7 linked regions of the Homo sapiens genome follow. The protein of the gene in region 1 purifies or fractionates together with the protein of each later gene. This does not show direct contact. Each region holds a gene or a part of one and is shown in the gene's direction. Other genes may lie near its edges.

The links.
Region 2: the proteins of NELL2 (region 1) and ZBTB40 purify together in Homo sapiens (affinity purification with mass spectrometry; 2 studies listed by BioGRID and IntAct, with this or other methods). This does not show direct contact.
Region 3: the proteins of NELL2 (region 1) and PAX3 purify together in Homo sapiens (affinity purification with mass spectrometry; 2 studies listed by BioGRID and IntAct, with this or other methods). This does not show direct contact.
Region 4: the proteins of NELL2 (region 1) and POC1A purify together in Homo sapiens (affinity purification with mass spectrometry; 2 studies listed by BioGRID and IntAct, with this or other methods). This does not show direct contact.
Region 5: the proteins of NELL2 (region 1) and ZNF101 purify together in Homo sapiens (affinity purification with mass spectrometry; 2 studies listed by BioGRID and IntAct, with this or other methods). This does not show direct contact.
Region 6: the proteins of NELL2 (region 1) and ZNF627 purify together in Homo sapiens (affinity purification with mass spectrometry; 2 studies listed by BioGRID and IntAct, with this or other methods). This does not show direct contact.
Region 7: the proteins of NELL2 (region 1) and EMILIN2 purify together in Homo sapiens (affinity purification with mass spectrometry; 2 studies listed by BioGRID and IntAct, with this or other methods). This does not show direct contact.

Annotation. Positions count from the first base shown.
Region 1 is NC_000012.12:44,778,137-44,782,724, reverse strand, and holds part of NELL2 (protein kinase C-binding protein NELL2 isoform b precursor), read left to right. Parts: intron 1-2,702; coding exon 2,703-2,876; intron 2,877-2,965; coding exon 2,966-3,062; intron 3,063-4,588. UniProt on the Homo sapiens protein: Plays multiple roles in neural tissues, regulates neuronal proliferation, survival, differentiation, polarization, as well as axon guidance and synaptic functions.
Region 2 is NC_000001.11:22,457,927-22,462,514, forward strand, and holds part of ZBTB40 (zinc finger and BTB domain-containing protein 40), read left to right. Parts: intron 1-4,588. UniProt on the Homo sapiens protein: May be involved in transcriptional regulation.
Region 3 is NC_000002.12:222,218,320-222,222,907, reverse strand, and holds part of PAX3 (paired box protein Pax-3), read left to right. Parts: exon of another isoform or gene 1-1,520; coding exon 1,521-1,686; exon of another isoform or gene 1,687-1,822; intron 1,823-2,355; exon of another isoform or gene 2,356-2,512; intron 2,513-2,553; coding exon 2,554-2,768; intron 2,769-4,588. UniProt on the Homo sapiens protein: Transcription factor that may regulate cell proliferation, migration and apoptosis. Involved in neural development and myogenesis. Transcriptional activator of MITF, acting synergistically with SOX10.
Region 4 is NC_000003.12:52,146,911-52,151,498, reverse strand, and holds part of POC1A (POC1 centriolar protein homolog A), read left to right. Parts: intron 1-327; exon of another isoform or gene 328-398; coding exon 399-483; intron 484-1,511; coding exon 1,512-1,683; intron 1,684-2,109; coding exon 2,110-2,289; intron 2,290-4,403; coding exon 4,404-4,511; intron 4,512-4,588.
Region 5 is NC_000019.10:19,671,336-19,675,923, forward strand, and holds part of ZNF101 (zinc finger protein 101), read left to right. Parts: intron 1-3,847; exon of another isoform or gene 3,848-3,863; coding exon of another isoform or gene 3,864-3,965; intron 3,966-4,068; exon of another isoform or gene 4,069-4,588. UniProt on the Homo sapiens protein: May be involved in transcriptional regulation.
Region 6 is NC_000019.10:11,616,467-11,620,144, forward strand, and holds the end of ZNF627 (zinc finger protein 627), read left to right. Parts: intron 1-228; coding exon 229-1,423; 3' UTR 1,424-2,695; downstream 2,696-3,678. UniProt on the Homo sapiens protein: May be involved in transcriptional regulation.
Region 7 is NC_000018.10:2,912,374-2,916,959, forward strand, and holds the end of EMILIN2 (EMILIN-2 precursor), read left to right. Parts: intron 1-693; coding exon 694-1,031; 3' UTR 1,032-3,630; downstream 3,631-4,586. UniProt on the Homo sapiens protein: May be responsible for anchoring smooth muscle cells to elastic fibers, and may be involved not only in the formation of the elastic fiber, but also in the processes that regulate vessel assembly. Has cell adhesive capacity.

The DNA of each region.
Region 1 (4,588 bases):
TTTTCGGTAATACACATTGAGAATTGCTATGTCTTCTTAATGGATTGATTTTTTTCATCATTTTTATAGCATTTCTGTTTGTCTTTGGTATTTTTTGGCTCTGAAATATATTTTTCTGAAATTAATATAGCCATTTCTGCTTTCCTTTGATTAATAGTTTCAATATATATTATTTTCTATTTGTTTACTTTCAAACTGCCTAGACTGTTATATTTGAAGTGAGTTTCTTACCAACAGAATATGGTCATGGTTTTTAATCCCTTCTGCTAATCTCTTTCTTTTAATTGATGCATGTAAACTATTTACTTTTAATAAAATTATATGCTTGAGTTTAAGTCTGCCACTTTATTTTTTATTTTATGTTTGTTCTCTCTGTTTTATTTTTCTGTTTTTTTTCTTACCATGGGTTACTTGTTTTACAATTTCATTTTATCTGTATGTTTATGAGTGTGTCTCTTTGTATAGCTTTGTAAGTGGTTGCTGTAGGTATTCCATTATATATACATAACTTATAACTGATTGTTCGTATAGTCATTTTACCAGTTTGAGTGATGTATAGAAATTTTAGCTGTCTTTATGTTTCTTTACCCTCACTCATTTATAACATAAATTCTTTAAATATTGTTTAACATACATTTAGGACACAGACTCTTTTGCTTCAATTTTGAGCTGTTGCTTCAGTTGTCAAACATACTTTAGAAAAGAGGAGAAGGAAAGCTTATTGTATTTACCCATTTTTCTTTTTTACATACTATGTTCTTTCTACCTTCCTGATGTTCCAAAGCTTTTTATTTTATATTTTTCTTTCTGTTTAGAGGTCATTATTTTGCTGTTCTTTTAAAATAGGTCTTCTCATGATAAATTCTCTTAGTTTTCCTTTATCTGAGAATGTCTTGATTTCTCTTCATTCCTGAAGGATGTTTTTGCTGGGTATACAATTCTACGTGTACAGCTCTTTTTGCTTTTGTCACATGAAAAATATTTTACCACTTCTTTATGGCTCCCATGGTTTCTACTGAGAAACACACTGTCACTCTAATTTTTCCTTGTACTTAATGTGCAAGATTTTCTCTGTCTACTTTCAAATTTTTTCTTTGTTTTTAGTTTTCAGAAGATTAATTATGATATGGCTTGATATGAAGTTGAAAATTGTTTTGAGTTTATCTTGTTTAGGGTTTCCTTAGATTCTTGAATCTGTGAGTTTATATCTCTTGCCAAATTTGGGAGGTGTTCAGCCATTATTTCTTCAATATTGTTTTTTAAGCTCGCCTCCTTTCTCCTCTCTTTCTCGGATGCTAGTGATACAAATGTTAGATCTTTTGTTATAATCTCACAGCTCTTTAAGACTGTTCAACTTTTTTTTCAGTCTATCTTCTATTTGTCACATTGGATGCTTTTTTTTCTGTCTTCCAGATAACTGATTCTTTTCACAGTCACTTCCATTCTGCTGTTTAGCTTTATCCACTGAGCTTTCATTTCCATTATTGTATTTTTTTGGTTCTGAAGTTTCTATTTGGTTTTAAATTTTTTTTCCCATTTTTCTTTTTCTTTATTGAAACTTTCTATTTTTTTCATTTAAGTCTTTTCATAATTGTTTTTGTCAGTGCTGCTGTAAAATATTTGTTGGGTAATTCTAACATCCTTATCATTTTAGTCTTGATATCTGTTCTTTTTCTTTTTACAATCTGTTGGAGATTTCTTTGCTTCTTGGTATAATGAATGATTTTTTACTGAAACCTGGACATGTTTGTATCATGTTCTGAGACTTGAATCTTATTTAACCCGCCTGTTTTAGCCAGCTTTCTCTGACACTGCTTTGTCAGGGGAAGGGAGGGTGCCATCTTGTTACTGCCAGGTGGAGGTAGAAGTCTAGATTCCCCACTTGCCTTTGTTGACAGTTGAGGGGGAAGCTTCTTTTATTTCTGAGTTGGGGGAAGTTTCAGCTTCCTATATGGTTTCTGCTGGCACTGTGGCGGGGTGGTTTCATTACTGCTGGATGACTATAAAACTCCTGACTCCTTAGTAGGCTTCCTTTGATACTATCCCAGCGGGGAAAGGGAAGTGTGCTTCATTACTTCCAAGATGAGATGGAAGTCCAGGCTCCTCATTGTATGGTCTTCACTAGTGCTGTGGGGGGCCTCATTACTGCCTGGGAGGGTTAAAATTCTTGGCTCTAAACTTGGCCTTCTCTGACACTATTCTGGTGTTACATGCCTCATTTCTGCTTGAACAGGGTAGAAATATAAGCTTCTTACTTAGCTTTTGTTTGGCATGGTTTGGGATGGGGCCAGTTTTTTCTGTGATGTTTGACTGGAACAGAGAGATTATTATCTAGCAGTTTCTGTCTTGCTAGACTGATCCTTTCTTTGTTCTTCAGCTAGAGAAAGCAGGCTCATCTTGAGGATTTTTTAGGTCTACATTCATTGATATTTCCAGATTGAAGCCTTCTTTAGCTCCAAGTCCAGGATATATGACACAAAATGGAAACCCATTGAACTCACTACCATATTGTTCCTTGGATCCTGAATATCTTTTTTTCTCTATCTTCTAGATTCTTCTGTGTTTGTTTTGTATATGATGTCTAGTTGTACTTAGTGGGAGAACTAGGAAAAGTACATCTATTCCATCCCGTAGACAGAGATCACTTCAATCGTTTTTGAACTTTATTTTTAATGTGTCCCATGTGGCTCTTCTCTCTGCAGGTACCTGGAACTGGAAAGTAGTGGCCATCGGAATGAAGTCAGACTGCATTACCGCTCAGGCAGTCACCGCCCTCACACAGAAGTGTTTCCTTACATTTTGGCTGATGACAAGTGGCACAAGCTCTCCTTAGCCATCAGTGCTTCCCATTTGATTTTACACATTGACTGCAATAAGTAAGTGTAGTGTCCTCATTTTAGGAAATGGAAGATTCTAAGAAATGACTGTCTACTCACGTTCCTTCTTTGATGTTTCTTTTTTGCAGAATTTATGAAAGGGTAGTAGAAAAGCCCTCCACAGACTTGCCTCTAGGCACAACATTTTGGCTAGGACAGAGAAATAATGCGCATGGATATTTTAAGGTATCTTTTGGCAAAAGTCTGAGAATGAAATGTAAATGCTTTCTAATGAGTTTCAAAAAGTAGATTTTACTTTTTATGGTGTGAAACAAAATAATTTGATTTGTAAATTAGAAAATTTGTGTCTGTTTCATTTTTTTAAACAGTAATATTTTAGCCAGCAAACATTATTTTCTCTTCTTTTTTCAATGAGTTTAATTGTTAGATATTACAGAAATGATCACAAGGCTGCAATCAGGGCAGTTAACAGGTCATTCTTTGAATTAACCTTTCAAAGCAATAAAAATCTAAAATGTTAACATACAAATAAACTCTCCACCACTGAAATATAACCTTTGATGATACTTTTACAAAGATGTTAATAGCGGATTGAAAGCTTTTTAGTATATATTATTCATGGTCTCCTTGTACTGCAGAAAGTGAGAAAGGAATACACATATGTGCACAAATCTGTCAAAAGAGAAAGCAGTTATAATTTATATCTTTTCCTTTAATATGTACTTGGAGACAACACTTCATAGAATTTCTTCATTGGAGAGGCTCTAAGGGACATGTCATTTAACTTTCCATATTTTAAAGATGAAGAAATAAAGTCCAGAGAATTGCTTGACTACAAGCCCATAGTGCAATCATTTTCCCCCAGTGGCTATGACAGTCCCTACAACATGGAAGTGGCTCGATGAATGATTACCAAATCAAACAATGATAAGTGATAGTTCAACTCATAGATTTCAAGGTAGATCACATACCAGTGAATTTAATTGTTTTCTAAGCAAAGTTTATAATTCTATAAAGGTGTTTTGGGAACTTATTTAAGCATTGCCTGTTACCAGGAAACCAGATACTTGAAATATATGATTCCATCTAATAGTAGCCTTGCTAGTCTTGATGCAGGGTCATTTTTTATTTCTGTTTTATTATGCATAAACCTGCACAGAGGGGTAAAGTAACTTGCTTAAAGATAGGCAAATAGTAAGTGACACAAATAGGAAATTGGTTCCATGCTTGCAAATCCTAAAACCATGCGCTTTTCCCAGGTAAGGGATAGCAGATGTGTGCTGTGAGTCCCAAATCTCATCTCTATTTAATCGTGACAGTCCTTCCCATGGAGCCTAAGTGTGGCCTCAAAATCTCCACATGTCAATTATGTGTACAACTCTGGGGGTCATTCTCTTTATTGTAGTCCATAAATAGTATCCATTAGAGTTGTACAGTGCATAAACTATATAACCGTACACGATAGCCTTGTTTTTATGTTGCTGCTTCTAAGTGATAGGAGTTGGTACACAATTTATTTCATCAATCTAGGCCCAAGCACACACTGGATCCAGTAATACCCACACAGTAAAAATACTTAAATATTTATCGTTCACATTGATACATGCTATTAATCAGATTAAACATGTACAAGACATAGAGACCAGTATTTGACTGGTAAATCTTTATAGGTACGTTTAAAATTATATTGATGTCATGTTGGTACAGTTATTCCTATCATTAGATATTTTGTTTGCATTTTTCAAATGGAT
Region 2 (4,588 bases), on another chromosome or scaffold:
CAGGGCATTGGCAGCAGTGAATTTGCCATCTTTCTTCCACCTGGTACTTCTCCCTGGTTCTTAGGCTCAGTGGATGGCACCACAGAGTTGCCAAAGGCAGAAACCTGGGAATGGTGCCATGATCTTCTCTTTCAGCACATATTTAGTTAGGCTACAGGACTGTTGATTTCTTCTACCCTTTCTCTTCCTTTGGTTAGAGTTGCTATAATCTCTTGTCCTGGATTATGAAACAGCCTTCTAGTTGGTCAGTGGCTTTCAGCTTCATTCCTCTCCAATCTATTTGGTACACTGTTACCAGTGGTCTTTATAAAGCACAGATCGGAATATGTGATTCCCTTGCTTTAAAACTCTTGGATGGCTTGCCTGCCCTTAGGATGGTCCAGCAAGTGCTACCCTCCAACTGTGGCTGTGCCTGTCTCTCAAGCCTCTGAGCAGCCCCTCCTCCCACAATTCACCTTATATTGAGCACCAGTTGAAATCTCTCAGTGGCCACAGGACTTCATCCTTTCTGGGGCCAGTGGGCCACATTCCAAGGCTTCAAGGCTGCTCCCTCTCCCTGGACTTCCCTGCTGCTGGTATCAACCAGGCCAGTAGCAATGCCATTATCTACACTGACCTTTATATTACTGAATGCTGTTTGGGTTTTCTGTTATTCCTTTTTTCCTTAGAATATATGCTACTTGAGATGTGTAGTCAGATATTGTCTTAAAGTCACTTGATGTAATTATCTTCTGTGTAGTTGTATCACCAACTTCATAAACAGGCTCTTTTTCTTGAATACTTTTTTAAAAAATTAATTAATTTTGAGAATGGATTAGGAAACTGGCCAATTTTTATGATTTTTGGTAGAGATGGGGTTTCACCATGTTGCCCAGGCTGGTCTTGAACTCCTGGCCTCAAGCAATCCACCTGCCTCGGCCTCCCAAAGTGCTGGGATTACAAGTGTGAGCCACTGTGCCAGGCTGTCATTGGTTTTAAACTTTAAGGATTGCTATTAAAAATTAAATTCCTTTTTACCAAGAAGTTTTTATTTCATACCTAAACCCTTCTTCTCTGTTTCTCCTGTCTTGCTAACAAAGTATGCTGTTAAAGTTTTGGGGTTTTGCCAATCTGTCAGGTAAGAAATAATATTTCAGTATAGCTTAAATTTGTTGTTTCTTTTTATGAGATAAAGGATATATCATGTCTGTGATACAGATTGCAAATATATTTTTCCAGTTGTCATATGCTTGACTTTGTATATATTGTTTTATTTCTATCCAAGTTTTATATCTTTATATAGTTGTGTTTCTCAGTCTTACCGTGTATTGCTTTGGATTTGCAGTCATAGTTAGGATATTTGCCCCACTCTCAATTTATGGAGCATCCATTTATATTTTCTTCTAGTACATGTAAGGCTTATGATTTCACTTTTTAAAAAACATTTAAGACTCTGATCCATTTGAAATTTATCTTAGTATTTGGTTTGAGGAAGGATCTGATTTTATCTTTATCCCAATGGCCAGTCAGTTGTCTCAACAGTACTTATTAAAAACTTTTTTCTTCACTGATTTGAGATGCTGTCTTTATTGAATACTAAGCCTTTGTATGCATTTAGATTTCTTACTGGATTTTCTGTTTTGTTCCATTGGTTTGATTGCCAATTCATATGCTGTTACAAAATCATCTTAATTTTAGAGGCTTTATCATTTAACATCTGGAAGGGCCAATTTTTAAAATATTGCTCTTTTTCAGGGTTTTCCTGGCTGTTTTTGCTTGTTTATTCTGGCATATGAACTTAATAATCAATTTGTCTGGTTTCAAGAGGAGATGACTTGATGGTATTTTTATTAGGATTGTGTTACATTTTATAAATTAGCTTAGGGAGAACTAGCATCTTTACCATATTGACTCTTCTATCCAAGATTATGGTCTGTCTTTTCATTTGCTCAAAGCTACTTTGGTGATTTTTCAGGAGTGTTACATGTTTTTCCTTATATAAAATCTGTATGCTTCTTTTTCAGTTTATTAGACCTTTATTCTTAACATTTAAAAAATAATAATTCTGTTTAGAATCCCTCCAGAAGATCCTAGAGAAGTTCTACACACCCACATATTCCAAACATTTTGCATGCGACTTCAAATTATTCCTTGATACCTCCCCCCTTAAAGCTCATCCTATTATATTGTTCCCTAAATCTCCTTCTTTTGTCCACCTTCATCTCTTTCTCACTCTCACCTCTTAGCACTGTGTCCTGCGTACAGTTCAGTCAGAACATATTTGCTGAATGGATGAATAAAGTAGTGAGGGGAGAATGAAGGTGGGTGAAAGAGTGAGAGCCCGTTAGACTCTATTTGGAAAGGTCATCCTTGTTGTATTTCTAAGTCTGCAGCCATTGATTCACTGGGTCATAGTACTTGGTTCTCCTCTTTCCTCCATTCCAAAACTTTTTTAAAAGTTCTGGTGAACTTTAAAATTTTCATAATATTAAAATATAATAATTCATGTCTTAACATTATATGACATTTCACATCATGTTGATAATAATAGTTACCATTTATTGAACACATACAAAATACCAGGCAGTGTACTAGGTATTCTACAGTATTGTTTCATGTAACCCTCACAACAACTAAGCAATAGGTATTATTACTGCCGTTTCTAAAAATTAAGAAAATTTGCAAATATAAAAGTGAGAGTAGCATTATGAGCTCCCATATACTTGTTAACTTCATTTTACCCTTGAGAAAACAGGTTTTGAAAGGTTAAGTAACTCAAGGTTACAAAGCTAACGTCAGATTTAGAACCCAACTCTTTATAGCTCCTTATTAAAAATTGTTTTTCAAACTTTAGGCTCTAGCTGGCCAGGGAAGAGCAGAAGGAAAGGAGAGAGTCAAGACCCACTCTTCAAACTAGTATAGTATTATAGAAGACTCTAATAGTAGTCTTCCCATCTACGAATTCACACCCAGATACTTCCTTCTCTACTCACTGCAGACAGTAAACCCTCCCATCTTTCCCCCTTTACTGCTTCTCATGTGCTCTTCTCACTCTGTCTTCTATTTCTCTAGTTGTATTACTACAATCTGATATTGGTTGGTTTTCAAAGGCTTGCCACTGTTTTGAATACTTACCTCCTAGTATGATGTCGTGAACATAGTGGGAACCAATATATTTAAATTAAATAACAATGAAACTTGCTCTTAATCATTTAGCATATAAGTTTGGCATGGTACTTGTTACTTTTGAATGTTGCTCTGAAGGCCTGAAGTCATTCAGTTTGACCACTCTAGACACAAGCTGCTCATTCAGTTGGTACTCTGCTGTCAGTTCTCCTCAGTTGTAGTCAGGTTAAAACCAGAGGGAGACTGGCTAAGGTCAGAGTCCAAGACAGCAGAATAATTGGCCCCTAGAGTTCCGTTGTTTTTTTTTTTTTTTTTCTGGACAGTAAAATGTTGAGGATGAAATTTCCGTATATTCCTTTGAACATTTTTGAGCAAATACTATAGAATCCCATAGGCTCTTTCCCAACATTAACAGCAATAGAGAAGTTATCCTCTTTTACGTTTTTTTGTTAGCTCCTTAAGTTAACCCTCTTGACATACTCCCTGGTGATGGAGGGAAATAGAGAGATGAAAATAATTCCCACTTCTTCAAAGACAAAAGAAAAAGCTTATAACACTAGGAGGAGACGAGAAAGGAGTTGATCTGTGAAATGTACACAGAGGGGTACTGAAGGCTGAGTGATCTGAGTAGTGTGATAGGACAGTGTTGCTGGAAGTTGGGGGTCTGTAGTCTCTTCAGTGCTCTGGTACTTAACTACAAAAGTGTGAGGAAAGAAGGATTTAAGCTGAAAGTGGTCTCTTCTTCCCAGCTGTGCCATAAGCTCCTTGAGAGCAGGGATTATGCTGAATTTCTTCTCTGTGTAGTGCCAAGCCTCAGTTAAGGTCATTCGGCTGAGCTCAGTGACAATCTGCTGGATTGACAAGCACATCTTTTTCGCTGATAGGGCTGGGACACAGCCTTGGGGTCACACTGGGGCCACATGGGCTCCCACATCCTTCAGCTGCCCTGTTACCAAGGTGCACAGCCTTGAACAAGTAGGAAGTGGCAGGGAGGGTTGAGGAATGTGTGTGCGGTGTCTCACCTGCACAGAATAAGTAGGCTCTACATCTCCATTATCTGTTCTTATTTAAAAACCACTTCATTAATAGGGTATCCTTGTAATGCCTCTGAACAGGGAAGTTATCAAAAAAGTAGGAGAAAGAATCTAAGGTTAAGAACTTCACCACTTTTTAAATTTTAAAGTTTGGGCAGTATCACTCAGTGGTCAAAGTTTCGGCTCTAGAGTCAGACAGCATGAGTTCACTGACTGACTCTACCACTCACTGGCTTTGTGATTTGGGGCAGGTCATTTAATCTCTCTAGGCCTCCACTTCCTCATTTGAAAGTGGGGTTAATAATAGTAACTATCTCACTGGTTTTGCAAAAATTATTTAAGGCCACCAATGTAAAGTGCTTGGCACAATACCTGAGATATAATAAATGCTTAATAAATGTTAGCTATTATTGTTAACCTCTCAAACGCATTCTTCTTCCCTTTTCCAA
Region 3 (4,588 bases), on another chromosome or scaffold:
TGAGCTGAAACTTTTTGCTTCCACTTTAGAGTTTTCCTGATTCTCTGTGCTTCCAAATGTGAAGTTTCTACCTCTAGCGAGCAATTATTTTGGTCTCCTTGACTGCTCTGTGAATCCCATGAGGACAAGGCATCAAACTACCAGAGTGCAGAGATCCTACTTGATTCCCTTTATATCCTTCCAACCCCAAACACAGTGCTTTCCTCCATATTAAGTTTCAATGGGTGGCTCACGCCTGTAATCCCAGCACTTTGGGAGGTCGAGGCGGGTGGATCACCTGAGCTTAGGAGTTCAAGACCCACATGGTGAAACCCCGTCTCTACTAAGAATACAAAAATTAGCTGGGCATGGTGGCGGGTGCCTGTAATCATAGCTACTGGGGAGGCTGAGGCAAGAGAATCCCTTGAACCTGGGAGGCGGAGGTTGGGTTGAACTGAGATCCCGCCATTGCACTCCAGACTGGGCGACAGAGCAAGACTGTCTCAAAAAAAAAAAAAAAAGTTTCAATGAACTTTTGATGTAGGAATTAGAATATCTTTAGTTGGTAGAAATCCTCTCTCATTTTAGGGGAAACATCATGTGTGCTCCGTGGAAAAATCACCCCAAGTTCTACATTTAAACTTTGCAGATGTAAGAGTTGGGCAGGAGCACAGGACCCATGAAAGGCCTTATATCACAATTTCTCAATAGTTTAGATATTCAGTTACATTTCTTGCTGCCATGACTGCCCTTTCTCTCCATTGACTCATACAAAATACTTGGGCTTTGAATTATTTGAGGGCATTTTATTATATTGTATCAGGCTTTTCTGAATGTACCTGGTTAGCATAGTGCTTGACACAGCGTGTTCTAGGAGCTTAAAGCTGTTGTTGAAATAAATAAGACACAAATGAATTATTTTAGATAAAAAAAGGCTTTCATTTCTTGAAACACTTACCTCTTTGGCATTTATTTCCACCGAGATCAGTGCAATGTTTCATATTTTGGAAGAGATGAAAAAAGGGCTCCACTTATCCTCTGTTCAATTTATATGACCATCCAGAAGCTATACCCCTAGTGACCACAGAAATACAGAGACAGACTAATAAGAATATAAAATACAAGGCTTGGAGTAAAAGGCAAGGCCACATTTAGGACATGCGTCATGCAGGGGTCACAGAGGCTCATGTATCCTCCCCAGAAGGCTGTCTACACGTAGGTGGGTGGATGTTGAGGGTAGGGAGGGGAGTTCCTGTTGTTCCTACTCCTGCTCAGTGATTCCTGCCCATGGTCCTCATAAGGTTCATGGGGGCTGTTGTTGCAAGATCATGGTGGGTCCCTGAAGCCCCTCTACTGACCTTTGACACTAAACTCTTCTTTTACTCCTGACAATTCGCCCAAACAACACAGAAGGCAGAGAACTCTTGCATCTATTTGCCCTTTCAGTAAGAAGCCTCTAATCTGTTTTAGCATAAAAAATTCATTAAGAATGTACTATTATTTCATCAGTGAAATCCTTAAATTTTAAATTAAATCCATAGGTCTGGTTTAGCAACCGCCGTGCAAGATGGAGGAAGCAAGCTGGGGCCAATCAACTGATGGCTTTCAACCATCTCATTCCCGGGGGGTTCCCTCCCACTGCCATGCCGACCTTGCCAACGTACCAGCTGTCGGAGACCTCTTACCAGCCCACATCTATTCCACAAGGTACCGAGGAAGAGTCAAGGAGATTAGAAAGTAACTTCCAGGCGATTTCTCTGGTGGATATTTTATACAAGTGAATCCTTCTGCAGTACTGACACCATGTTGTTAATTGTAATACATCAGGTTGTCCTGAACGTACCTATCACATTTCAGAAACATAGTTTGTTCTATGATGTATCAGAATATCTCTAGATAAACTGTGCTGTAATATAATTCAATTGCAGTATTTTAAAACAAATTAACCTTCCCAAATAACCATGGGATTTGCTTTTCTTTTGTTAAAATTTTACCTCTACGTTTTACTCCAGTTTGCAACTAACTGGAATTCAATGATGCTTACTAACTGTAGGAATAATAGAGGGAAGGTAAGCTTTGACAAAGTCATTATTTGTTAGCACACAGAGGTGAATGGGATAATGTTAAATTGTAAGATCCGATTATTTTGGATTATGAAAGAACATTCCAGGCATTTGAAACTATATTATTACACAAATATTTAGGTGCTTTAAAAGTATATTTGATAAGAAATTTGAGACTTGCAGTCCTTATATTGGTTAATTCTCATATTGATGAATAACATTCACTACCAAAATATGCTTGTTAGCATTGCTAATATGATTTCTGCATTAGTATTCTGGGTGAGCCTGCCGTGAGAGTATATATGTTACTTACAAGTATGTGCAGAGATAGGTGTGACTGTATCTGTTATGGGTGATTCTACACCTGCAGGTTAAGAAACGCAGTTTGAAGTGAACATTTGATTTGATCAATAGATGCTCCTGATGGCCTGGTGGCTGATGAACTTTTGCACTGAACTTTCTCTGCTGGCCTAAAAGAAAACATGATGGTTGACAATCTTTTTCATTTCAGCTGTGTCAGATCCCAGCAGCACCGTTCACAGACCTCAACCGCTTCCTCCAAGCACTGTACACCAAAGCACGATTCCTTCCAACCCAGACAGCAGCTCTGCCTACTGCCTCCCCAGCACCAGGCATGGATTTTCCAGCTATACAGACAGCTTTGTGCCTCCGTCGGGGCCCTCCAACCCCATGAACCCCACCATTGGCAATGGCCTCTCACCTCAGGTCAGTCCCGTGTTTCTAGACAGACGATTTGCTGTATACCAGAACCAAATATTCAATTCCCTGAGGCAGTAGTGTAATGAATTGCCAAATTTAAACCATAATGTATTCTTTATAGAAGCCACATGATTTCAGTTTTCTGGTTTCCTTTCTCTCCACCCTTCCTACTGGCTTCATCAAAAGTTGTAGCTTAGACTTAAAATTCAAGTGATTTTTGATATAATCTTGGAGACTTTGTGTTCATATTTAGCTGTGAAGGTGTTTGCCATGTTTTGTCTTCTCCATCCTAGTTCTGGGCTTTGGTTAAGAAGCTTGCAAACAGTGGCAGGTTTTTTGTTTTGTTTTTTTGTTTTAAATTGTATTTAAAATTGATAAGGTTTCAATCAATTGATAAGGTTTTAAATTGATGAGGTTTCAATCAAAAGCACCTCATAAGAAAACACTAAAGCTTTGACAAAACAATCAGAGAGGAAGCAAACAAGTCCTGTGGAGAGAGACCCAGCTGATGACTACGAACTCTGGAATAAACGAGTTATAAATGCACAAATTAGGGGAATTACTGCTCTTTGGGACTATATAAATATTTGAATGTTGTAATTGTTTTTCTAATTTGCATTGGACTATGAGCTTTTCTTAGGAGATCACATTAATAAATTGCCTTGATAATTGCATGTGAGAGGGTTGGTTAAATTTCCTACATGTGGCATCTGTCTGAGGTTGACATTATTAGCAGTTGTTTAAATACAGATCCCTTGATTTTATTAGAGAGTGCTTGGCCCAGGTGGCAAGGATAGCTGCCCACTAAATTTGGAGAAATGTCACAAGGGGTTGCAATCTATAATTGCAATCGAGAATCTCTTCAGAGAGTTTGAACAGCTTTATCTGTTCTCAACCCCCTTTTTCCTCTTGGTGGTTAGAAAAACAGAGAGAAGCTCAGAATGACACAAATGAAAAGTGAAAAGACAATTATACTCAATTACACACTAATCACTGACTATCACCGCTGCCTAAGCACCAAGAGGGCATTCTAATAGGCAGAAAATGAGATTTTAATGGCACAAAGGGTGGCCAAAATAACGACTCGTATATCTTTGCCTCTTCGTTTTCTTCAACTTGTGGTGTGTGTCTTGGGAGTGGAATTCCTGGGCTCTGCAAGACAGTGATAACTGTGAGCAGCTGAAAAGTTCAAAGCCGGAGGAGTTGAAAAGAATGGATAGCAAAGGCAATGAAATAAACATTTCCGCCTAAAGGCAAAAGTTCATAAATCCTTTTTTGTAACAGTAAATGTAATTAAGTTTCATAGATTCCTATAGCACATCCTGGGATAAAAAAAAAATTATGAGGTGGCTTTAAACCTCAGCTGAAAAATAACAACATGAAAACAATGAAAGTGCTTCCTACAGGACTTTAATACATTTTATTTCCAAGTACTGGCATTTGTGAATGTGATTTCTGCATGAAAATCATGGACTTATATTGATAGAGTCATCCTTAAAATACCCAGATTCATGGCATATGAGCTTCTTCCACAACTTAGAAGTAACATCAGAAGTACTTATCTCCGCGATTTTTTAAGATTTGTAGTTTTGGGGGCTGTAGAAAAGCTTTTCATGAACATGATTTGGTTGAAAGTTTTAATAAAAGTAAACTCCTGCCCTAGCTGCTTCTGCAAGGTGAGATCCCAGATTCCATTGGCATTTCTTAGTACCTTATTTTATTCAATAGCAATAAAACTAATAAGAACCTGTATTCTATAAGTGAAACTGGTACTTTCTTGTATAAATGTATTATCTTGTATGTTATGATGTGTATTCTTTTGTATT
Region 4 (4,588 bases), on another chromosome or scaffold:
ACTGGGATTATAGGCGCCTGCCACCATGCCCGGCTAATTTAAAATATTGCTATTTTTTTTATGTATCATAAATAGTTTTATTTTTTGGATTATTCATTGCTAGTGTACAGAAAGACAATTGATTTTTGTGTCTTGATTTTGTATCTTGCAACTTTGCTGAACTCATTTGTTTTTTGTTTTTGTTGAAGCATTTCCACAGTTGATGTATTAATTCAAATAGTAAAAACTATTCCTAGTAAAAACTAATCCTAAGTGGATTCCTTAGGATTTTCTTTATATAAGATCATGCCTTGAGCATTTTTAACCCTACTCCCCCGGCTGTTGTAGGAAGAGTGCTGGCCCTGGGGAAGCCCCTTCCTCACCCAGGCTTCACACATTTGACCCTGGCTCTCTCTCAGGAGGACCCCTCGCTGGAAAGGCATTTTAAGGGCCACCGAGATGCAGTTACCTGTGTGGACTTCAGTATCAACACAAAGCAGCTGGGTAAGAAGAGGCACCCTGTCTAGGTGCTAGGTTATGAGCTGAACAGGCCAAGTTTTTACCTCGGAGGGGTGGTGGGTGGGAAGCAGAGCACAAGGACTGCACAGCTTTGTCTAGACCTGCTTCTAGTCTTGCTTCTGCTTGCCAGCTCTTTGGGCACTGGGCTTCATGAGCTTCATTTTACATGCAGAGCCTGAGGGTCAGAGAGGTTAGGGGCCTTGCTAAGGCCACAGAGCTTTTGAGGGTGGGACTGGGATCTGGGTCTTTTCTGCACACCCTAGCCACCTTTTGGGTCTGTCTTTTGGTGTGGGCCCTAAACAGTGACTCCTTTTCCTTGAAGCTTTACTGATTCTGTTGCCCACAGTAATAAGGCACACCTTGTTGAAGAGCCTTGTCAGTGAGAAGGCTGTTGAGCAGAGATGGGCACCCCCCTCGACCCCACTGCTCTTATGCTGCAGCTGACTGTCCCCCTTCCTTGGTTGCATGAGGTTTCGTACACAGCTTTTATGACTGCGCTTTCTGGTTCCTGCAGAGGAGGCTTGCCCCTTCATCCTGTCATCAAGACCCTCTGATGTGTAAAGGTTAAGAGGGAACTGAAGTGATTTTTGATCAGTTTTGGGGACCTCCTTTAGGCTTCATACTGAGTTGGGCCCTCTCAATGGGAGGGGCTGGCTTCCCAGCTGGGGAGGACTTGCTCTCTGGTGCCCTCAGGATGTGTCTGGGGGGAGACCCTGGGCCCCATGGGAATGAGTTTTCCCAGAGCTCTGGATTGCAGTCCAAGGCTAGCATGGGAAGGGCCTCGGTCTTATTCCCATGTGGGTGTGCTCCTTGGAGAACTCTGGGCCACAGGCTCTCCACCTCCAGACCATACCTCGAGATGTGCTCTGCTCCATGGGAGACTTCTCACGGTCTGTTTGTGGATGCCAGGGAAGATGGAGCTGGGCCAGTTGCTCCCCCTGCCTCTCCAATGTCTTGGTGGAGGCTTGAAGCCTGTTAGAGCTGTAGGTCATAGCATCACCCACTGTCCTCAGCCAGTGGCTCCATGGACTCATGCCTCATGGTCTGGCACATGAAGCCGCAGTCACGCGCCTACCGCTTCACTGGCCACAAGGATGCCGTCACCTGTGTGAACTTCTCTCCTTCGGGACACCTGCTTGCTTCCGGCTCCCGAGACAAGACTGTCCGCATCTGGGTACCCAATGTGTGAGTCGTACACTTTGAGGAGGCTTGTTGGAGTCTGGGGCCCTGGTGCCAGAGCCATCCCCACCCAGGTCCCCTAGCTTGGCTCTGGACTGGTCACAGTGGGACTTCTACTCTGCTTTGGAAGAGGTGCCATCAGAGGCTGGGGCTGCAGTTGGAGCCCTCCCCTCAGGGTTGGAAGAGGAGTTCTGGGCTTACCCAATCTATCCCTAAAGAAATGCCACCTGATGCTGTGTTCATGTGGGTGGGGCCTAGAGATGGTGCTCTGTTCATATAGGAGAGGCTCTGGCTTTCCCTTGTGGAGACTGGGGTACTCGGGCTTGACTGACTTTGGGAGGGGTGCTTGAGGAGTAGGAGAGCTTTGATGTGCTTGTGGGCTCTCATGTCACTGTTATGGGTTTCCTTACTCTTGGATGCCTGTCCTTGTAGCAAAGGTGAGTCCACTGTGTTTCGTGCACACACAGCCACAGTGAGGAGTGTCCACTTCTGCAGTGATGGCCAGTCCTTCGTGACAGCCTCTGACGACAAGACAGTCAAAGTGTGGGCAACTCATCGCCAGAAATTCCTGTTCTCCCTGAGCCAGCATATCAACTGGGTCCGCTGTGCCAAGTGAGCATTGTTCTGTCTGGAGACCCTTGGAGGAACCCTGGGGGTTGGGGGCTGGCCCAGGGGCTGCTAGGTACCAACTTATGACCTCGGGCAAGTTACTTAGGCATTGTTTAAGCTTCCTCAGCCTCGGTTTCCTTATCTGTAAAATGGAACAATAATAGCTCCTGCATTGTAAGTTGTCGAGAAGCTTCATGGAGCTGATGCATGACATGTAAGTTAGTCCATAGTCAGCCATGATGACCCTCTGACATCTGTGTTGGCAAAGCACAAACTGGGTCAACAGGGGCCATTTATTATCAAAAACAATTAGGTACTTTCAGTACTACCATTACACATTTTCTTTTTGTTCCTTAAGACAGTTCTGCAAGCTAGGTGCATTTCCATTTTGCAGATGAGGAAATGGGGGCTCAGAACAGTAGTATCTTGTCCCAGAGCACACGGTGGGTCTGTGGCAGAGCTGGAGTTTGAACCCAACTCTCTCTGACAGTAAGGCTTGCCTACTTTCCTCTGGGATGTTCTCAGGGGATGATTTTGCTCCAGAGCTCCCAGATGGGGGCGCAGGCTTCGGAGATGGGGGGCTTAGCCTGGAGGCTAGCCTTCCTGCTGGCCAGGGAGCCAGTGCTGTGCAGACAGCGGGCCAGGTAACCCAAAGGACCTTTCAAGGTCCAAGAATTGCAGACAGATAGTCCTACTTCTAGCTTATTTCATTCCTTTCAACAGAGCTTCCCCATGGGTCAAATATCTTTGCTTCAGAGGAAGGGGTTGGGGTGCCAGGTGACATTAGGAAACCACATGAGTCAGAAGTTGGGGACTATTGAGCTGTGTTCTTCTGGGGACCCCATACAAGTTACTGTTCTCCAGGGCACCCCCATTCCTTTGTCCTGGGAGACCCCTGATGGCTCTTAGAGGCTTTATGACTAGGGTCCTGAGATCAGGAGGGGCCAGGCCAGCAAACTGGGGTGTCAAGTCCATACTGGGCCTTTGGTGGCAGTCCCCAGGACCTCATGCCTTTTGTTGGCAGATTGTGTCTTGCTGACCCGCACTTGAGTCAAATGTAGACTCGGAGGACCTGGTCCCAGAGTAATGACACTGATGGTGAGCTTTTGGCCACCTTTATGCAAATGTTGCCGGCAGGCAGTCGGCTGCATGTTGCCATGTGCTGTGCGTCAGGGGCAGTGCTGGGGCTTTATGTGCATGAGGCTGCTCTGTGCTCACTCGTGAGGCAGGCACCTTTTTTTTTTTCTTTTCTTTTTGTTTATTTATGTTTGGTTTTCCTCTAAGTCAGGAAGAATTTCTCTTTTTCCCTTTTGGTCAGAGTTTGCTGTTGGGATGGGAGAGGGGCTATTTGCTCATGAAGCTACGTAAGAAAACGAAAACAAGAGCAACAGGAAAGATCAATAAGTTTCACAGATTCAGGAAGAAAAAAATAAAGGAAACATTTTTATAACATTTAAAATTAAGTCATAGGCCGAGCTTGAAGGTGCATGTCTGTAATCCTAGCACTTTGGGTGGATGAGGTGGGAGGATCCTTTGACTCCAGGAGTTAGAGGACCAGCCTGGGCAACATAGTGAGACTCCCATCTCTACAATAAAATAAAATAAAATAAAATTAGCTGGGTGTGGTGGTGCACGCCTGTAGTCCCAGCTGCTCAGGAGGCTTAGGTGGGAGGATCTCTTGAGCCCAGGAGGTAGAGGCTGCAGTGAGCTGAGATCACACCACTGCACTCCAGCCTGGGTGACAGAGCAATACCCTGTCTAAAAAACAAAACAAAAACAAAAACAAAATTTAGTCACAGTTTCCTGAAAAACTCTTCAGAAGGAAAAAAGAAAAATGATGTGCTAAAAGTTAACTATTTTCAGAAACAAAGTATAATTTAAGATATGACCAAATAAACAGAAGTAACATTGCCTCCTAGGATGCAATGCATTTGTTCCTGAAAAGACAAATTAGGGTATTCAAATTAAAAAAAAAAAAATCACAGCAGGGCATGTGACCCCGGGTGGTTCCTGCAGGCAGATAGTAGGCACTCGGGGAAGAGTGGCTGTGGAAGAAGGTGTGTGGTGCCCATGTCGTCTGTTAGTCTGTGATGTGACTTGTGCCCCACCCGGTTCAGGTTCTCCCCCGACGGGCGGCTCATCGTGTCTGCCAGTGATGACAAGACTGTTAAGCTGTGGGACAAGAGCAGCCGGGAATGTGTCCACTCGTATTGTGAGCATGGCGGGTGAGTCCCCAGATGCTGTCCTCCACCTGTAGGCGCTCAAGCACAGAGCACAGACCTGGGCATGAGGAGGCCCAGTG
Region 5 (4,588 bases), on another chromosome or scaffold:
TATTATGGAAAAAATACTGAATGACATCTGAAAGTGATAGATACTCATCTCTTTTCCTAAGGATACTAATCTGTACTCCTAGGTCTCTCTCATGATCTCATGTAATCCCAGTTATTTCCCAGAGTTGCTGCCCGTAATATTAATACCATCACCTTAGGTGTTAGGATTTTTTTTTTTTTTTTGAGACAGAGTCTTGCTCTGTCGCCCAGGCTGGAGTGCAGTGGCGCGATCTCGGCTCACTGCAAGCTCCGCCTCCCGGGTTCACGCCATTCTCCTGCCTCTGCCTCCCGAGTAGCTGGGACTACAGGTGCCCGCCATTACGCCCGGCTAATTTTTTGTATTTTTAGTAGAGACGGGGTTTCACCGTGTTAGCCAGGATGGTCTCGATCTCCTGACCTCGTGATCCGCCCGCCTCGGCCTCCCAAAGTGCTGGGATTACAGGCGTGAGCCCCCGTGCCCGGCAGATATTTTTCAACGTATGCTTTTTACATCATAATCATTTTATTCACGAGACATTTTCAGACTTCAAGAAAAATTTCAGTAGGCTTTGTTCTTTTCTAAAAATTGACTTCAACGGCTTGTAACAGCAATTCAAGATGAACTGAGGGCAGGAACACTGGCAAACACCTGTAATTCTAGGTACTTGAGAGGCTGAGGCGGGAGAATCGATTTAGCCCAGGAGTTCAAGTCCAGCCTGGGCAATATAGTGAGACCCCCATCTTAAAAAATGTGTGTGTGTATATATATATATATATAAATTATATGTATGATTATATATATATTTATAAGTTGTATGATTATATATATTTATAAATTTTATGTATGATTATATATATATTTATAAATTTATTTATTTTATTTTTTTACTTTCGAGACAAAGTCTTGCCCTGTTGCCCAGGCTGGAGTGCAATGGTACAATCTTGGCTCACTACAACCTCCGCTAAAGTGATTCTCCTGCCTCAGCCCTCCCCCACGCCCGGTAGCTGAACCCGGTAGCTGAATCCTGAGTAGCTGGGATTACAGGTGCCCTCCACCACACCTAGCTAATTTTTTTTAGCTTTAGTAGAGACAGGGTTTCGCCATGTTGGCCAGGCTGGTCTCGAACTCCTGACCTCATGGTCCTCCTGCGTCGGCCTCCCATAGTGTTGGGATTACAGGCGTGAACCATCACATTCAGCCCTATATGCATTTTAGAACGGGCTTTTTTTTTGGCGGGGGGGGTCTCTGTTGCCCAGGCTGGAGTGCGGTGGCACGATCTCAGCTCATTGCAACCTCTGCCTCCCAGGTTCAAACGATTTTCCTGCCTCAGCCTCCCAAGTACCTGGGATTACAGGCACCTGCCACCACGCCCAGCCAATTTTTTGTATTTTTAGTAGACACGGGGTTTCAACATGTTGGCTAGGCCAGTCTGAAACTCCTGAGCTCAGGCAATCCTCCCACTTCGACCTCCCAAAGTGTTGGGATTATAGGCATGAGCCACTGTGACTGGCTGGTATTTTTATTTCTGAAAAAAGAAAACAAAACAAAAAAAACCAGACATGGGATTTTGATAGGGATTGTATTGAATTTGCAGATCATTTTGGGTAGTAGTACCTTCCAAATAATGTAAAGTCTTTTTTTTTTCTTTGACACAGAGTCTTGCTCTATCACCCAGACTGGAATGCAGTGGCACGGTCTTGACTCACTGCAACCTCCACTTCCTGGTTTCAAGCCATTCTCCTGCCTCAGCCTTCTGAGTAGCTGGGACTACAAGCGCATGCCACCACGCCTGGCTAATTTTTTTTTTTGTATTCTTAGTAGAGATGGGATTTTACCATGTTGGCCAGGCTGGTCTCAAACTCCTGACCTCAGGTGATTTGCCTGCCTTGGCCTCCCAAAGTGGTGGGATTACAGATATGAGCCAATGTGCTGGCTTTTTTTTTTTTTTTTTTTGAATTGGAGTCTTGCTCTGTCGCCGAGGCTGGGGTTCAGTGGCATGATCTCGGCTCACTGCAACCTCCACCTTCTGGGTTCAAGCAGTTCTTCTGTCTCAGTCTCCGGAGTAGCTGGGATTACAGGCACGTGCCACCACACCTGGCTAATTTTTGTATTTTCAGTAGAGACAGGGTTTCATCATGTTAGCCAGGCTGGTCTTGAACTCCTGACCTTGTAATCCACCCACCTCGGCCTCCCAAAGTGCTAGGGTTGCAGGCATGAGCCACCGCACCTGGCCAAATAATGTAAAGTCTTCGAACACATGAACACAAGATATTTTTCAATTTGTCTTTAATTTCATTCAGCAACATTTTGTTGTTTTTAGTGTACAAGTAGTCTTTCGACTTCTTGGTTTTGTAATTTCTAAGCGTTCAATTCTTTTTTTTTTTTTTTTTTTTTTTGAGACAGAGTCTCACTCTGTCGCCCAGTCTGGGCTATTTGGTGTCCTGGGTTTTATATTTGTTGAGGCTTTTTAAATTATTATTATTATTATTATTATTTTGAGATGGAGTCTTGCTTTGTTGCCCAGGATGGAGTGCAGTGGTGCGATCTCAGCTCACTGCAACCTCTGTCTCCTGAGTTCAAGCGATTCTCCTGCCTCAGCCTCCCAAGTAGTTGGGATTACAGGTGCCTGCCACCGCGCCCGACTAATTTTTGTATTTTTAGTAGAGACGGGGTTTCACCATCTTGGCCAGGCTGGTCTTGAACTCCTAACCTTTTGATCCACCTGCCTTTGCCTCCCAAAGTGCTGGGATTACAGATGTGAGTCACCGCGCCTGGCCTATTCAATTCTTTTTGGTGCTATTGTTTGTGGTATTGTTTTCTTAATTTCTTTTTCACATTATTCAGTTTTGGTGCATATAAATGTAGCTGACTTTTTTGGTCTTGAGACAGTCTACCTCTGTTGCCCAGACTGGAGTACAATGGTGTGATCTCAGCTCACTGCAACCTCTGCCTCCTGGGTTCAAGTGATTCTCCTGCCTTAGCCTCTCGAGTAGCTGGGACTACAGGTGTGGGCTACCACACCTGGCTGATTGTGTATTTTTAGTAGAGATGGGGTTTCACCATGCTGGTCAGGCTGGTCTTGAACTTCTCACCTCAAGTGATCTACTCGCCTCGACCTCCCGAAGTGCTGGGATTACAGGCGTGAGCCACCGCACCCAGCCCCATTGTTTTTCATATTTGAACCATCCTTGCATTTTGCGGATAAATCTCTCTTGATGATGTCATATAATCCTTTAAATATGCTGTCAGGTATGATTTGCTAGCATTTATTTGAGGATTTTTTGCATTGATATTCATAAAGGGCATTTGTAGTTTTGTTTTTTGTAGTGTCTGTCTTTGGTGTCAGCATAATTTTGACCTCATAGAGGGAGTTTGGAAATGTCCCCTCTTCAGTTTTGGAAGAGTTTGAGGAGGATTGATAGCAATTCTTTTTTAAATTTTTGGTGGATTTCAGCAGTGAAACTATTTGGTGTCCTGGGTTTTGTATTCGTTGAGGTTTTTAAAATTATTATTATTATTATTTTGAGATGGAGTCTCGTTTTGTCGCCCAGGATGGAGTGCAGTGGCGCCATCTCGGCTCACTGCAACCTCTGCCTCCCAGGTTCATGCCATTGTCCTGCCTCAACCTCCCCAGTAGCTGGGACTACAGGTGCCTGCCTCCATGCCAGCCTACTTTTTTGCGTTTTTAGTAGAGACGGGGTTTCACCGTGTTAGCCAGGATGGTCTCAATTTCCTGACCTTGTGATCCACCCTCCTCTGCCTCCCAAAGTGCTGAGGTTACAGGCATGAGCCACCGCGCCCAGCCAATTTATTATTTTTCTTAATTTATTTTATTTTTTTGAGATGGAGTTTCACTCTTGTTGCCCAGGCTGGAGTGTAATGGCATGATCTCGGCTCACTGCAACCTCCGCCTCCCGGGTTCATGGGATTCTCCTGCCTCTGCCTCCCAAGTAGCTGGGATTACCGGCGTCCACCACCATGCCCAGGTAATTTTTTGTATTTTTAGTAGAGACGGAGTTTCACCATGTTGGCTAGCCTGTCTCGAACTCCTGACTTAAGGGGATCCACCCACCTTGGCCTCCCAAAGTGCTGGGATTACAGGCATGAGCCACCGTGCCTGGCTATTTTTTTTTTATTACTATGCCAATCTCCTGCTACTACAGCTCTGTTCAGATTTTTTGTTTTTTCATGACTCAGTCTTGGTATATTGTGTATGTGTAGACATTTGTCCACGTAATCAGTTATATAATTTACTGAAGTATTCTAAAGGACTTCTGAAATTAAGCCTGAGTTGTACAGTTTTTTGTCCTCTGCTGTATGTATGTATTCTGCTGCTGTTGCTGTGAGTGTAAGGGGTGAGGTGAGGGGAATCATTCTATTGACCTATGACTTAGCCTCATTTAAAGATAATAGGCCGGGCACAGTGGCTTATGCGTGTAGTCCCAGCACTTTCAGAGGCGAAGGTGGGCAGATCGCTTTAGCCCAGGAGTTTGAGAGGAGCCTGGGCAACACAGGGAGAGCCTATCTCTACAAAAAATACAAAAATTAGCTGGGTGTGGTGGTGCCCACCTGTAGTAGGGAACAAGGTGGGATGATCACTTGAGCCTGG
Region 6 (3,678 bases), on another chromosome or scaffold:
TGAATCCAAGGCCAGGCATGGTGGCTCACGCCTGTAATCCCAGCACTTTGGGAGGCAGAGGTGAGAGGATCCCTTGAGCCTTGGAGTTCAGGGTTCACGCCTGGGCAACATAGTAAGATTCTGTCTCTGTATTTAAAAACAAGTATATGTAAGTCTAATACCTATTAATAAATATAAAATCATTTATAAACAAAACATTAATAATGTACTTCTCATTTTTCTGACAAGTCATATTCCAGAGAGACTCTGTGAAAGTAAAGAAGGTGGTCAAGGTGAAGAAACCTTCAGCCAGATTCCAGATGGTATTCTGAACAAGAAAACTCCTGGAGTAAAACCGTGTGAAAGCAGTGTGTGTGGAGAAGTTGGCATGGGTCCTTCATCACTTAATAGGCACATCAGAGATCACACTGGACGTGAACCAAATGAATATCAGGAATATGGAAAGAAGTCATATACACGTAACCAGTGTGGACGAGCCTTGAGTTATCATCGCTCTTTTCCAGTACGTGAAAGGACTCATCCTGGAGGAAAGCCCTATGATTGTAAGGAATGTGGAGAAACCTTTATTTCTCTTGTAAGCATTCGAAGACACATGTTAACGCATAGGGGAGGTGTACCTTACAAATGTAAGGTGTGTGGGAAAGCCTTTGATTATCCCAGTTTATTTCGTATACATGAAAGAAGTCACACTGGAGAGAAACCTTATGAATGCAAGCAATGTGGGAAAGCCTTCAGTTGTTCCAGTTACATTAGAATACATGAAAGGACTCACACTGGAGATAAACCCTATGAATGCAAGCAGTGTGGGAAAGCTTTCAGTTGTTCCAAGTACATTCGAATCCATGAACGAACTCACACAGGAGAGAAACCCTACGAATGTAAACAGTGCGGTAAAGCCTTTAGGTGCGCCAGTTCTGTTCGAAGTCACGAGAGGACTCACACCGGAGAGAAACTTTTTGAATGTAAGGAATGCGGGAAGGCTTTGACTTGTCTTGCAAGTGTTAGAAGACACATGATAAAGCACACTGGCAATGGACCTTATAAATGTAAGGTGTGTGGGAAAGCCTTTGATTTCCCCAGTTCATTTCGAATCCATGAAAGGACCCACACTGGAGAGAAACCCTATGATTGTAAGCAATGTGGGAAAGCCTTCAGTTGTTCCAGTTCGTTTCGAAAACATGAAAGAATTCACACTGGAGAGAAACCCTATAAATGTACAAAATGTGGGAAAGCCTTCAGTCGTTCCAGTTACTTCCGAATCCATGAAAGAACTCACACTGGAGAGAAACCCTATGAATGTAAGCAATGTGGGAAAGCCTTCAGTCGATCCACTTACTTTCGAGTACATGAAAAAATTCATACTGGAGAGAAACCCTATGAGAACCCTAACCCTAACGCTTCAGTTGTCCCAGTTCTTTCATGAGCATGAAAGGAGTCACATAGAGAAACCCCATGAAAGTAAGAAATTTGGGAAAGCCTTCAGTCCTTTCTGTTTCTTTCAACTACGTGAAAGGATTCACAGTGGAGAAAGACCCTGTAAGATAATTGGCTTTAAATTACGAGAGACTTGTGATAGGACAGTAAAACCTAGAGTTGGAGTTGGATCTCTGGATTGTGTTATGTCAGTGTTGGTAGGTTAGGAACTAGATTTCCCAGAATCCATTCCATTTGTGATTCCATGATACAATTCACCAGTAACCTATCTTACATGAGATTCGGAAGTAAGTTAAGAAGGCATTAGTCATGGTTTGGAAGCACCATACAGGGAGACAGCTGTGTGAATACAGGCTGTATGGACACTTGCTTCCATCCCATTTTCCTGCTTCTTTGGGTTGCCAATCAAGAGTATCCTCAAAACGACTTGACTTTAATTTTCTCGGAGGTGATAGGCTTCCACACAGGTCTCCAGAAGCCCTGCATTGAATATCCATCCACACTTTGGTTTTCCTTCAGACATTATTATGTCTGTACTAGGCAACTAATTCAGACTGTCCTGGTTGGGAATATTCTGTGATGCTCTGACTCCCCTAGTCTGTAGACGGAATTGGCATACGGTCTAATTTGTGTAGTAAGCACCTTTGTTCATACTAGTAGTGACTGTATTCTTGATTCAGCCTGATAGCTACCATGCTGCTGTCAAAACCAACCAGAGGGGAGCTTGTTCTTCTGCTGTAGTGTGCAGTGACTGGCCTCACCCAGGACTTTGATGTGAGAATGAGCACTTTCCTCTATCAGGAAATTTCAAGTGTTTCCTGTTATTCGTAGCTCAATGTAATGCCTCAGTTCATTTTCAGTTGTTTGATTATATGTGACTAATATGTATTTTTTATTCAAACAAGACTTCTGTACATGTTTCTTCAAAACAGTTTATTAACTGTCTTCAGTCTTGGATTACATCAAGTTTATAATTTTGGCAAATTGTTAAGACACTGTGAAGTCAGCGTTAACCATGTGCATACAACTTAAGGAATTTTTTCCTCCTCATGTAAATTTTACTTTTCATGCTTATATAGTTTCAACTTTTATCTTCATAGTAATTTCTCATCTACTCATAATACCAAAAGTTAAGTCATGCTGTTTTGTGTGCTCTCTTGCTAAAGACCGCAGAGACCATACCTGTTGTCAAAGAGGGTGTAATAAACTGTAATAATAATCATGACCACAAACCATAAAGGACTGTGTGATGTATCAGTAAGAGGGTGCTCAGAAGAATTTCTTACAGGTTTTGTGCTTGTTATAGGTTGGTTGATTTCTATTTTTTTTTTTTTTTTGATATAGAGTGTTGCTCTGTTGCCCAGGCTGGAGTGCAGTGGTGCGATCTCAACTCACTGCAACCTCCACCTCCCAGGTTCAAGCAATTCTCCTGCCTCAGCCTCCAGAGTAGCTGGGATTTCAGGTGCACACCACCACACTCGGCTAATTTTTGTACTTTTAGTAGTGAACGGGGTTTCACCATGTTGGTCGGGCTGGTCTCAAACTCCTGACCTCGTGATCCACCTGCCTCGGCCTCCCAAAGTGCTGGGATTACAGGCATGAGCCACCGCACCTGGCCAGGTTGATTGATTTATGTTCAGGGAAGCAAGATGATTCTCTGTATTTGATGCAGTGATGAGGTAAACTTAATTCTAAACTTGGTAATCATAACTGTTCTTATCCAGAAGGGAAAAGGAATGGAGTGGAGGTAAACGTAATTCATGAGAAATACCACTCAGTCATATTAGTGAGAAGAGGGGAATTTGGGTCATGTTTATGATTTGGAACATGCTGTCTTTCACCAGTTTTAAAGACATGGTTACAGAATGCCCTTTTTTTGTCTTGATTCATCATAGCCACCTAGGAGCATGGTCTCACATTGCTGGTGTCTGACATGTTTCTCTCCAACAGCGTAAGACTTGGCCTTGCAGTGAGCGGAGGCTGGCTCCTGGACTTGTGGACCTGTTTTTGCCTTACTTATTCTCTGAACACTGAAGTATTTCCTGTGATGTACTGGACACTGTTTTCCATTATGTACCTCAGTTAAAATATGTAAATTTACTTCTTAGCAAGCTGTATAATACTTTTAAAAAGCTCCTTTACGAGTCTAATGAGACTAATATATTTATGCACATTTTCTGAATGCAAGCCTAGGAAGGGAACAAAGTCAGCATCAATATTCCAACCAAGCCTTTCTTGCTCCAA
Region 7 (4,586 bases), on another chromosome or scaffold:
TTTATGTCCACTCTTGGCTTGTTGTCAGCGGCAAGGTCCGATGTCTGCTGCGGAGCCCGTGAGTGATGGCCATTCCTGCCGGCATTTGGTGTTGGCACTGACTCTCCTAGCTGTGGGGCCACCTACAGCTGCTTCTGCTTAGCGAATTGTGACATGTACAGATCTTTCCACCTTCCTCACCTTTGGCCACCACTTCCTTTCCCACCCTGGGCCCAGAACGTGTGGGTCATGGGCTGAGTATCAGTGCTCACTTCTGGCCATTGCCCAGCATGGGGAGAATGGGCCTCTTCCACGAGGAGCCTGGCATGGCCCCTGGGGTTACAAGGTGCCATGTCTGCCTCTCCCTGGGTTGGTGGCAAGCTTCGTTTTTATTGGCCCTGCCTCCCGGGTATTCTGCCCAGCAGCCAAGCTTTGAGGCTGACTTTAGCCTTTAGGTGCTTCCAATAAGGAATGCCTCCAAGAGGCATTCTTAGGCCCATGGCAAAAAGTGGTATGGGCTAAGGTGGCCTCTGCATCACGGGTAGGCTGTAGGGGATGAGCATAAAAAGCAGCTGAGGCAGGCAGCCAGCTACCATGGGAAGACAGAGATGGCTGGTCTCCCAGGCCCAGGTTAATCACTGGGGGGCCACTTACTACCATGGCAAGGGCTGTGACGACAGCAGGTGAGCACAGGGTTTGCCTTTCTCCCCGCAGGGGTCTTCACGGCTCCTTATGATGGGCGCTACCTGATCACGGCCACCCTCACCCCCGAGAGAGACGCCTACGTGGAAGCAGTGCTGTCGGTCTCCAACGCCAGCGTGGCCCAGCTGCATACCGCTGGGTACAGGAGAGAGTTCCTGGAATACCACCGCCCTCCAGGAGCTTTGCATACCTGCGGGGGCCCGGGGGCATTCCACCTCATCGTGCACCTGAAGGCGGGAGATGCAGTCAACGTCGTGGTGACTGGGGGCAAGCTGGCTCACACAGACTTTGATGAAATGTACTCCACATTTAGTGGGGTTTTCTTATATCCTTTCCTTTCCCACCTCTAAGGTGGCTGGGGAGATGTCAGGGGAAAGATAGATAGTTGTAAAAACTCTAAAGCTTTAATATATTCGGTTTGTATGTAATGGAAGCACGGGGCTAGAGTTTCCACATAGGCCCCAACATAAAGGCCTTCCCTCGCTGTTGAGGCCACCATGCCTTACTGCATCCAGCCAGGCTGCAGGGAGTGAGGCACACGGTGAACATGGCCACTGACTTTTCTGCCACTCTAACTGGACAACTGGAAGACTTGGAAAGGCCTCCACCTGTATCTACACTCTGAGGGCCCTGGACTGGGCCTGAGCTTGCCACAGAGGCTCCGTCTGACTGTGGGCTGGGAGGAGGGAGGCAGGGGAGAGCCGGTCACGGTGGCTGGTCTTTACTGCAGGGCAGCACTGTGGCCAGCTGTCTGTCTTTACACTGCATGCAGAAGTTTAAACACTGAAGTGCCGAAGTGGCCCGTGCCGCCGCACAGAGACCCCGACTTTAGTTTGGGCTGTTCCACGCTTGGCTCACCATTGCCGCCTGGGACTTAACCTGCTCAGGCGGGCCTTCGCCCAGCTGCAAATAGGGATGCGTTAGAGACTGTTCCCAAAGCTTGTTGGGCTCCTTAAATGGCATGTACAATTTAAGTGCAAAGACAGGGAGTGTCAATAAAGATGGAAAGCCATTTCCAGTTAACTTTTGTTAATTTAAGTGTGGTCCCTTACAGATCGGGAGTTGTTGCTAAAAAGCAAACTGAAGAAATGTTTTGTTTCAAAAAGGGCTACAGAAAGTAACCTTGAGTAAAATTAATCTCAGCTACAAAACTGTTACCCCTCCGCATCCAAGCTATACACTTGGGTTTTGTTTCTGGCTTGTGAAGACGGACCAGATGTGCACGGAGGTCAAGGCCCCATGTCATCTGCAGCTGGAGCGGCTCCTCTGGGGATGCTGCACTCAGATCCCACAGCAGCTGCCCAGGCTAACTTGATCCCTGCTGCTTCACTGCACCAATCTCCAGCAGACACAGCTCGCCGAGCTCTTGGGTTTCTAAGCAGCAGGAAGCTCAACCTAACGCTGGCCACACGCTGACAGCTGAGCCCATCTGAGAACACGGCATCTTCACACAGCGAGACGCCTCCACTGAGGGGAGGCCCGGGAGTATCAATCTGTCACCAGTGGCCACGGAGACCTCTCAGCACCCTTAGTTCAAGGTAGTCTCTGTGGATCAGGTTGGTAACACCTACTGGTTAATCAAGTCCCACTGGGGAAAGGTTTGGACGGTAGAATCAAGAGCTGCAGTTTCCTTGGCCCACAAGATGCTCTTATGCTGTAAAAAAAATGCTTTAAGAATTGTTTGCAAATGAATTTACAGGGTGGCCACTGGACACTTCAGAGTTCCTTATTTACTCCCCCCGCCACAGCTAGGAAGACCAGCAAGAACTAAAGGTTTGCCGTTTTACTATTTAAAATGTGGACCTCTTTGTCCAGGAGCGGGAGGGAGAATGGCATCTCACCCCATTACAACAGCTGGGGAACTGGCTAAAGAGAGCTGTCAGAGAGTATCCTTGGCTGTCCTAGGAATGACTCATGGAAAGCGCCCCAGTGCAGCAGTGTTTTCAGGAAAACCCAGTGGGCACGCGCCATCGCCCTCTCCTCTCCTCTCACGCTCCTTTTGAAAAGACCGCACTCGGCGCCCAAGGGGACGTGCTCAAGAGCTGCAGGGGCAGGGCCCAGGCAAAAGGTGGGTGATGACTACCTGCTGCTTTCCCTACTCCGTAGATGGGTCTGGAACATCGGGTAAAACCCAGTCCTCCTCTCAGTGCATCTCTACTCACCAACAATGGTGAATCTCAGCTCTGTGTATTCAAGACAGGCAAAACAGAATATGCCTCATTATGGCTGGAGCGTGCCTCTACTTTGAGATAAAGCTGGATGACAGGTGGATCCTGGCCCACTTAGGAGACATCTTTAGAAAGGGAAAGGCTGTCTTTTTGTACAGGTAGTAGAACAACAAGGTCAGCTGAGCTTAAGGCTGTGGGGTTCGAAGCAGCCCTTCAAGAAGTCATCACCCCTGAAGTAGTGCCTGCGAGTCAGTCAGAGGCATACCAAACCCTGAGACAGAATCAGGCACAAGTTCACAACTTTTTTTTTTTTTTGGGGGGAGACAGTCCTACTCTGTCGCCCAGGCTGGAGTGCAGTAGCGCGATCTCAGCTCACTGCAACCTCCGCCTCCCGGGTTCAAGCAATTCTCCTACCTCAGCCTCCCGAGTAGCGGGGACTACAGGTGCATGCCGCCACGCCCGGTTAATTTTTTGTATTTTAGTAGAGATGGGGTTTCACCGTGTTGCCCAGGCTGGTCGCGAACTCCTGAGCTCAGCCAATCCGCCCACCTCGGCCTCCCAAAGTGCTGGGATTACAGGTATGAGCCACCACGCCCAGCCAAGTTCACAACTTCTGATATCAAGTTGTTGCTGAGAAAAGGTCAGGACACTTCTTAAGTAGAGAAGGACTGTGACATCCCCTCCAAACCTCCATGTAACACTAACAAATGGCCTCATTTACACGATTAAAAACAAAATGGTATCGTCAATAAATGCAAACCTTAAACTGCATTTGAAATTACTTCCTGGTTGGCATGTTAATCTAGCTTTCCCAGGTGACTAATTTTCTCACAGTTTATGTATTTGCAGCTTGACAGGGAGTATTTGTGATTGGAGTCACTTCGTTCATGCCTGTAAGCTTGGAAACCCAGCTTTGCACATATCCAATCCACACCACAGCCCCTTTCTAAAGATAAATGTGTATTTTCCTTATGCCATCCTATAAACGGGAAAGAAAATGGAAGGACACATGCCAACTCCAATGGGTGCGGGGCAAAACAGAGAGAAGCCACACGCAGGCACGTCCTCAGAGCTCAGGTATGCAAAGTTCACTGCTCCCCTGAAGCCCTCAAAGCTGCTCTGGGTAAAGACCATTTCCTTTGTAACCAATTTCCCTGAGCTCTTCTTTTGCATTCCCAAAGACCCATGGTTGCCATCACGTCATGCAAACAAACATTTCCATCCTGAACACACGCTCCTGTGGAGGGCCTTTGGGATGCAGGGTTCAGCATATGCTGCATCTGGTAAGGGCCCAGCAATCTGAGAGGACAAAACATCACCATGTAAGTAATATATGCGATGTGGTTTTGATCAAAGGTCACTCTGACTCTGTGATGAAAACATCAGGATTGACTGCTAAATCATACCCACCCTAAGGAAGGGTTTAAGGAAAGGTGGGGTGTCCAGGGGCTCTGGACAGGACTCCCAGGGAATTCAAGTGCTTAGGGAGAGGAGGTAAACACAGCCTCCTGGACAGCCGTGAGACCACAGCAGAAGTCACATATGGATGGGTCATTTCCTGGCAGAAGGTACAAAGCAAGAGGTTAGTTCCTGGGGGTGTAGCTGCACTTCTGAAGCCAGGTTTTAAGAATAAGCAACAAAAAGGAGCTCCTGCTGTAGACAAATTTAAGTGTCAGCAAAGATCAAGATGCTAATTTATGGAAATTACCAATTTCTGGCAAGAATCTAGAAAGATGG